2 separate regions of the Homo sapiens genome follow, and region 1 is linked to region 2. The links come from fine-mapping of genetic effects on gene expression. A gene starts in region 2. The other region holds a variant in brackets. All regions are shown on one strand. Distances are from middle to middle. Region 1 overlaps ITPKB (inositol-trisphosphate 3-kinase B). Region 2 holds the start of ITPKB-IT1 (ITPKB intronic transcript 1).

Region 1 (4,390 bases), 26 kb after region 2:
GGTGGTGACCGGCTGTGCACTCTCCCCCTGGACCCACCGTAATGGCTTCCCCCTGAGCAGGGGCGTCCCCACGAGCCACTGCTGGGCTCATCTTGTGTAATGAGGTTTTTCCATTGTTGCCCTCATGCATTGTGTGCCCTGATTGTTTATGCAGCCTTCTGGGTGCTTAGATAAGAAATGCCTCCGCTGGCTCTAGCCTTCTTTGGCGATCTCCATCAGAAGGATCTAGGAAAAACATCCTTGTCAGTAAAGCCTCGGCCCTTTTGTCACATGGCCTCATGGGGCGCTGCCCTCTCTTAAGAATAGAATTGGTCTTGGCGGTGGGGTGAGAGTTTCTGGGATGGGGATAAGAATTACCAGGTTTAGTAAGGAAGAATTCCTCTCCTTAAATAGATTTTAACTTGAAAACCTGATGACAGAAGCGGCTGAGTCTCAGCAAAGAGAGAAAAAACAAAGGAGGCCGATTTCACCTTGACTTCACCTTGGGGACCCAGCAGCCGCCGCTGACCCCTGAGGGCTGCAGCTGGGCGCTTCGGGGCAAGGAGTGGGAACCACATCTTCAGTGTGTCCCCCTGTCAGGCAGTACCACCCTCATCTCCTCTGCAAGCCACATGGCTTCTGCTCTCCGTGGTTTAGCTGGTCCAGGATCCACTTTCTCAGGAACTCACAATGCTTCTCATTCAGGTTCTCATCGCCCCCCTGAGGACGGGTGTATTTTGGGGACACTTGATCTTCATCTCTGCAGCCTGTTCTTATTAAAGTTCACTTAAGGATATTTTTTCTAAAAATATGTTTTTTTTTTGTTTTTTTGTTTTGTTTTGTTTGTTTTTGCTGGGGAAGAAAAGAATTTTATTAATTTTATTTATTTTCAAGTAGTTGTATAAATGAATGTTTAAATCCCAGCTTCGTCATTTACCTCTCTGAGGCTCAGGCTCCACCAGATGGAAATAGAAAAGAATTGACTTGCATGCTCATTGAGAAAATAAAATAAGATGCTCAATATACCTTAGTTCTCCTTTCTGCCCAAAGGGCCTGCTCTCCCCAAACACACATGCACGCACACACATGCACACGCACACACTCATGCACACATATGTGCATATCACACACGCATGCACACACATGCACACATCACACACATGCACATATCACGCATGCACACACTGATGCACACATATGCACATACATGCACATATCACACATGCACACACACGCACACATACGCACACACTCATGCACATATCACACATGCACACACACTCATGCACACATGCACACAATCACATGCACACATGCACATATATCACATATGCACACATACGCACACACTCATGCACACATATGCACACACACATGCACACACACGCACACACACATGCACACTCCCAGTCCTGGCTGTTTTCACTGAAGAAACATCCTGAGAGGGCGGAGCGCGGTGCAGAGGAGAGAGCTGTGGGCTTGCTCCCTCCTGTGTGACCTGAAGCCATCGGTGCAGGTTCTGTTCTGAGGAATTTCTTTAAAGTCTCTCTTCAAACCACTCGCAGGCAAGAGGTGCCTCTGGTGCCTCCGCATCTACGAATTGAATATGAACTAATGTGGTGCGGCTGGGTGGTTGTGTCCTCTCCAGCCTTCCTTGGAGGGGTCGTTGCTCTTGGGACAGGGGAGTTCCCCTGAGCATTTTGCTCAGGCTGTTTGTTAAATGGGGTAAAGCCACCTCCCACCATGTGCCGCATAGGTGATGGTGGTGGCAAGGTCCTCAGAGCCCGTCAAGGGCCCTTCCCATCTTGTGGCCACAGGCAATGAGGGCCTTTGCTTTGAATTTGTCCTAACCAGAAATTAGTGGTTGTCTTTCTAATGTAGAGCTTTTTGTTTGTTTGTTTCTAGAGCAAATCATGGAGGAAGATAAAAAACATGGTGCACTGGTCTCCCTTCGTCATGTCCTTCAAGAAGAAGTACCCCTGGATCCAGCTGGCAGGACACGCAGGTAGACACAGCTCTCCCAGACTTTCCCAGCATGGTGCTCAGCCCTCTGGGGAGGTGCCCTGGACGCTGCATTCTGGGGATCAAAGCTCCAGAGCAAGTTCCCTCCAAGACTTTCTAGTCTGAAATCACAGCCACACTTGCAGGCTGCGGCCTTACCAATGCCTTGTAAATGCCATAGACAAC[G/T]GACCTCTCTGGAGTCTGTGTTACCCCATCCTCCAAAACATGCATCCTCCCCTCCCTCGGTCTCTGGCTCTTATCTCTGTCTCTTCCAGTCTCTTTCTTTCTGTCTCTCTTCCCGTTGTATTCAATAAGACAGATGAAGCCATCAGTCTTTATAGCTTACCTGCCATTTGTCACCCTGGACAAAGAGGCAAAGCTAACCCCTTCATTGAGCACCTACTGTGTGCCTAAATTGCCATGGTCCTGGGGGTTGCGGCATTAATGGAGATGTAGTTTCTGCCCTGAGGGAGCCTGCAGCTGGTGGAAGATGCGGCCAAGCCACCCCATAACTGCAGGGCGGTGTGCGGTGTTGGGAGGAAGGTGGCTAGGAGCTGAGTCCAGGCAGTGCCGGGGAGAAGGGACATCTGGAGCCGAGGCCCCAGAGCCATCTAGCCCACATGTAGGACCCTCTGGAAGCACTGTCATCTGGAGACATGTCAGGGGCTGCCTGTGGACTTGGCCTTCGTGACTTCACCAGCCTCCTCAGGCCAGCACAAGGTCCCGCATTTCGCTTACCTCGTTGGCCACACTGGCCCAACTCAAGGCACATGGATGGACAGCCTGTGTGAATACTTACTTGGTCTGGCTCAGAAGAAGTGCCACCCAGGTGGGCTGAGCCTTAGGCCCCCCAGCTTCTCAGCCTGCTGTATCTCCCCACCTTGGCTCTGAATCCTGTCCAATCAGGGTTTCTCTACTGAGGCCAGGAGACACCTTCGTTGCCGAGAAGCAGGGCTGATGATGGAGGTGAGGATGAAAATAGCAACACTAAGGAATGACTGGGTCGTGGCACCTCAGTCTCTCACCTAGCTCTGTACCCTTCCAGCAGGGAACACTGGTGAGGAGGAGTCTGGAGTCAAGGAAGCTGGGGAACCAGCTCAGAATTACAGTTAGTGAGTGGGGACTAGGTCTTGAACCCACTCCCCTTAAGGTGCTCAGTCCATAGCAGGGACATAGACACACCTTCAGCCCCAGGCTTAGCCATCCCCAGGGAGGCCCAGACCCTGTGCTGGGGAGGGTGCCTCTGCCAGCTACCTGCAGCCGGAGACCAGGAACCTTCTACACTTGCTCTCCAGGGAGTTTCAAGGCAGCTGCCAATGGCAGGATCCTGAAGAAGCACTGTGAGTCAGAGCAGCGCTGCCTGGACCGGCTGATGGTGGATGTGCTGAGGCCCTTCGTACCTGCCTACCATGGGGATGTGGTGAAGGACGGGGAGCGCTACAACCAGATGGACGACCTGCTGGCCGACTTCGACTCGCCCTGTGTGATGGACTGCAAGATGGGAATCAGGTGAGCCAGGCTTCTCGCAGCCCACATGCCTGCCTCAGTGCAAGCCACATGGCAGGTGCACAGCGTGGCACTCAGGGCTTCCCGGAGGCCTCACAGGTGCAAGGGCAGGCTGAGGAGGCTGTTGGACCAATTAGAGCCTCCCCATCCCCAGGCATCTCCCATTATTTGCAGAGGGTTCCGGGACCTGGGCTTTGCCCATGATGGCCCCTTTCCTTCTCCAGTGAGCAGAAGCCAGGGGCTGGCGGAACCAGAAAAAGGGCACCGGCTGGGTTCTGAGGCCCCCTAGAGAGAAGGAAGAGAGAGCTGCCCTTGGTTCAGGTGGGATCGCTGGGGGTGCGGGGAGCCACCAGGTAGGGAGGTCGCAGGATGGTGACTTCCTGCTGTGTGAGCTGCAGGGGAGATGGGAATCGAGGTCTTTCCATTTCCCCAGCCCTGGTGAGTGGGAAGAGAGAGTGGCTAGTAGAACATGCTGGTTTCCCAAAAAAGACCTGTATCTGCCTAAAAGGAGGAGGAAGCCCCTGACGGAACTCAAGAAACCCACATGGCAGGTCACCGCAGGGCCCCAGGTGAGCCCGGAGCAGTCACTGGGCCTGTGTGCAGGACTGGCTCCCACCCCCAGGTTCCTGACAGGGGCTCAGGCTCACCCTGACACCTGCCCAGGGGATAAGCCTGGAGAGGACTCCAGGGAAGAGGAGAGAGGAAGAGGGGGCTTGAGGAGGCAGGGCAGAGAGCAGACAGGGATGCCTGAGGCCGGCTGCTGTGATCTCGGGGCTCAGTTTTAGGCAGCCGGGTTTTCTCATTACCTCTCAAACTGCTGCCCTTCCACCCTGAGTCATCCACAGCACGGCTCCTTCTCCCCTGTGCAGGCTTGGTGAACCTCCCTAAGGCTGTCGGCCCCCAT
Region 2 (4,390 bases):
TTTAGAAATTATTTCAGAATTCCTCCAGGCAGTTACCCTACGTCCTTTTTAAGTCAAGGTGTGGTATAAGTCCATTAACGAATTAAAATACTTCCAGATTTCTGTGTTATTCTCAAGGCACTTTTGCTAGATAACAATACCTCACACTTGGACGGTGTTTTGTGGTTTGCAAAGCACTTTCACATCTGTTTTCTCACTTGGTTGCCATAATAACCCTGGGAGCCGGGAAGGGCATGTCTTGTTATTATCCCTATTTTGCAGATGAGGAAGCCAAGGTTTTTAGAAGGTTGGGTGGCCTAGTCAAGGTCACACCGGTAGGGGAATTGGGGGGATGGAGGAAACTAGAGCTGTTTTTCCTTAACCATCTTGCCTCTCACTGAGATGAAACAGCAGGATGGTTCCTGGGACCCAGGATCCCTTTGAACGCTTGGATTAAAATAATTTATGAGTTCTTTGTGAGTGTGTGTGGACCTGCTGGTAGTGGCTTTTCTTCATTAGAATTTGCATGCAAGATTGACACTAAGATGGCTGACTTTCACCATCCCAAACCAACCCTGTTTTTGCACCGTGCTGTAGTGGTATGAATTACCTTGCAGGTAATTGTGGCTTAGGTGATGGTACACAAAAGGCATCATACAGCAGCCAGATGTTCATTTTACTAAATGGAAAATATGACTCAGAACACGGGCCAATCTGAGCCTCCAAGCAGGCAAATTAGCCATTGAGGATGAAGTCTTCACCTCTGGAGAGGAGAGAATGTGGGAGCACAGAGCCCAGAGTCAAATGATTTGGTTGAGATCCCCCCACTTTGGTTATTTAGACTTGCTTATACTCCTCTGACCAGACTATGGGATCTTCTACAGAAATTCTACAGAAGTGTGGGCAGAATTACAAGTAAGGTGGGTTGAGGAAGTGCACAGGTGGAAGTGTAGCCGAGAGGATGCGTTTGAGGAGCAAGAGGCTGGGACTCAAGAAGGCTTTATGCAGACTCGAATCTTACATTGATAACAAGCATTTGCGTAGCACATACGAGTTTCATCCTATGAAGGATTCCATAGGATTCTCACAGCAGCCCAAGGATGTGAGCAGAGCAGTAAACAATATCCCTGTTTTATAGAGGAAGTAGAAATCGAGAAGCAGGAAGGTTGGGTAATTTGCCCAAAGTTCCACCACTAGTAAATCGCAGAACTGGGACTAAAGCCCAGGTCTTCTGACCCTCACTGGGCCCAGCGTTCTTTCCAATATGTCATCCTGCCATTTTCCCCTTCCTTCCTCCTCCCCACAGCTCCTTGCAAGTTCAGCCTGCTGGAGGTAAGGGAAGTGATCATGAGAGTTTTTCCAGTGCTGAGACGTTCTGGAAAAAACATGGACCTGTATCTGTGTCCTGATCTGTGCTTCGTGATTGGACTGTCTTGACACTCGTCTCAGGACTCTGGGGAGTGCTTGTGCAAGTGTTTCCCAGTGTGGCCGGCTTCTTGAACGCTGCTAATGGAAAGTTGTAAGAGTTCTATTTTCCTGTTTCAAGCGAGCGTTTCCCCCTTGGGGTTATAGCAACCACTTCCTCCTCAGCACCCGGTGGGTCGTGGTAAACACCAGTTACAGCAGAGTATCCCCTTCTGACAACCTCATTGGTTCCTTTTTTTTTTTTTTTTTTTTTTTTTGCCTGTAAGCACATACACACAGAGTTCTGAAGGCTAGGTCTCCTTTCCTTCTGGTTTAGAGTTTTCAGAGTACCCTGCTGTGGCCTTGGAAACAGAAAACCCACACAGAGGTCAAACGCAGTTCTCGTGGAGTCACCTTGTCATCCTGCTTTGTTTTGGAAGGAACTGGGTCGGAGGCAGCACAGTAGGACTACAGCATCTTTAACCCTTGGTAGGATGGCTGGATCCGCTGAACGCTTGTGGGTAAACAGGAAGCTCACAGCCTCAGTGGATCATTAAGGGTGATACAGAATAGACACGAAAATCTTAAGTGGGATGGGAGCAGAGCAGGACTTGGTGGGTAGATAGTGAGGAAAAGGAGGCAAATAGGGATGGTGAAGAAATCGAAAGGGAATGGGGGATACAAGGAAAGGGTCAGGAAAGGGTGAGTAAAAGGTTTAAAGAGAGGTGCTAATTTTAGATACTTAAAAGTATTTTAAGTATCTAAAACTTGTGGCTGGGTGTGGTGGCTCACTCCTTTAATCCCAGCACTTTGGGAGGCCAAGGCGGGCAGATCACCTGAGGTCAGAAGTTCGAGACCAGCCTGGCCAACATAGTGAAACCCCGTCTCTAACTAAAAATACAAAAATTAGGCCAGGCACAGTGGCTCACGCCTGTAATTCCAGCACTATGGGAGGCTGAGGTGGGTGGATCACGAGGTCAGGAGTTCAAAACTAGCCTGGCCAAGATGGTGAAACCCCATCTCTACTAAAACTACAAAAATCAGCCAAGTGTGGTGGCAGGTGCCTGTAATCCCAGCTACTCGGAGGCTGAGGCAGGAGATTGGTTTGAACCTGGGAGTTGGAGGTTGCAGTGAGCCGAGATGGTGCCACTGCCCTCCAGCCTGGGCAACAGTGAGACTCTGTCTCAAAAAAAAATGTGTATATATAAATACTTAAAAAATATTTGTAATTGCTGGTTTGGGGTTACTAGAATCTCTTCTGAATCTGTCTCAGTTTTTCTTACAGCTTTTAAAATCCATGGAACTCTATCACCAGGAGATGATTGTGGTATGGAGCTGATCACCCCGGAGTTAGTGGGGTGGCAACTGAGATCGGGGGGAAATGGAGCAGTTTGAGGATATATGGGCCGTGAAAACCTCCCAGCTCTGCCCCCAGCCATGCCATGAAAGTCATGGGGAAGAAAGGCCCCCATTTGTGTGTTTGTGTTATTAAATAGAACAGTAACAGAGCAGGTCTCTGAGCCTGCCTGGCAGAAATCTTTCTGTAGCAGGAGTGTCCTGCAACTCTCTGGTGGATTTGCAAAACAGTACAGATAGAAAAACTTAAATGGGAAACAAGCTTGTCTTGTCCTACTTTGTGGAGATAGATAATAAAGCCGAAAGGCCAAGAAGTGTAAATATATAGCATATATCTAATGTATATGGTATATGTACATATCAATCTATAGCTATGCAATATCTACACTATTTATCTATGTTTATACGATGACTCTAGGCTTCAGAAGACCTGTCAAAGATTTCCATACATCTAGAGAATTTAGAAGGATCCCTTTATAGGTGAGAGTTGAGACTTTTTGGCTGCAGGTTGGGATTTGGTGGACTAGTTCCTGGTACCACCACCTAGTTGCCGTGATTATCTTTAGACTAACCAAGGCCCTTGTGTTAGCCTTCCGTAAATCATCCCCACCCCTAAGCAAGACAGCACCTATACCTTCACAGTTTCTCCAGTTCATCCCTGTTTTATTTTATTTATTGTTTTTTGAGACAGGGTCATGCTCTGTCACCCAGGCTGGAGTGCAGTGGCACGAACATGGCAGCCTCTACCCCTGTGTTCAAGCAATCCTCCTGCCTCAGCCTCCCGAGTAGCTGGGACCACAGGTGCGCGCCACCACACCTGGCTAATTTTTGTGTTTTTTATAGAGACAAGGGGTCTCACCATGTTGCCCAGGCTGGTCTTGAACTCCTGGCCTCAAGCAGTCCTCCTGCCTCAGCCTCCCAAAGTGTTGGGATTACAGGCATGAGCTACTGCATCCGGCCCATCCCTGTTTAAATGGGAATATCCAGAAGATTGTCCTTGTCATACACTCGGTGCATTTTAGAGTGTCTTCACCACTTGTCAGAAACAGGATTCTGGTTGGGAAGGGCCATCATTCACAGTGTGGCAGGTTTTTGCTTTGTTAATTACTGGAATTGGGGTACAGAAGCCAAATGCAGGTTCTCCACCTGGGACCTTCTTCCTGTTTGTCTGCCCACTTCACACCTGTCTTAGCAGCTGCAGCCTGAAATAGTGAGATGGCTACATTGCCTGATCAAATCTGGGATTTATGTAGTGATAACACCTCCCAGGAGATAGATTTCTTCGCCCTACCCCAGTGCTTCCCACACATGCCCATGGACCAGCTCTTTATCTCTGGCATGAAGATTCCTCCCACTTCCCTGTTGCTGAGATCCTTAGGCCTTTAGAGGGCAATTCTTTCAGCAGGGATTGCAGCTCCAGGTTAGAGTGGGAGTGAGAAGAAGCCATATGCCTCACACCGAAAGACAGCCGTGGTCTTGTCGACCTAATATCTGAGCCAAGGTGGAGGACAGCTGCCCAGGACACACTTCCAAGTTGCCTTGGGGAGTGCTCTGTTTGGCCTTTGTTACAAGCAGGTTTTCAAAGGCAAAAGGAACAAGGAAGTGGGCTGATACAAAGTTGTTTGACAGGAATCCTCCCTGGTTTACAGAG

What was found. PIP is the estimated chance that this variant, and not a neighbour inherited with it, causes the effect.
Region 1: its variant is the best candidate, but not a certain one, in a credible set for the expression of ITPKB-IT1 in whole blood (TOPMed, PIP 0.70).

What each region holds. Positions count from the first base shown.
Region 1 is chr1:226,646,266-226,650,655 of GRCh38, reverse strand. ITPKB (inositol-trisphosphate 3-kinase B) reads left to right here. Exons shown (of 8, transcript NM_002221.4): 3 at 1,885-1,984; 4 at 3,276-3,489. Among named protein-coding and RNA genes, the nearest start is that of ITPKB-IT1, 27 kb to the left of the region's middle. RefSeq lists enhancers at 629-718, 2,985-3,876 and silencers at 514-808, 3,997-4,197. The variant G/T (reference allele first, on the strand shown) is at 2,167.
Region 2 is chr1:226,672,399-226,676,788 of GRCh38, reverse strand. ITPKB-IT1 (ITPKB intronic transcript 1) reads left to right here and starts at 1,721. Exons shown (of 2, transcript NR_103784.1): 1 at 1,721-1,872. The region is part of intron 2 of ITPKB (inositol-trisphosphate 3-kinase B); the gene reads left to right. RefSeq lists a silencer at 590-739.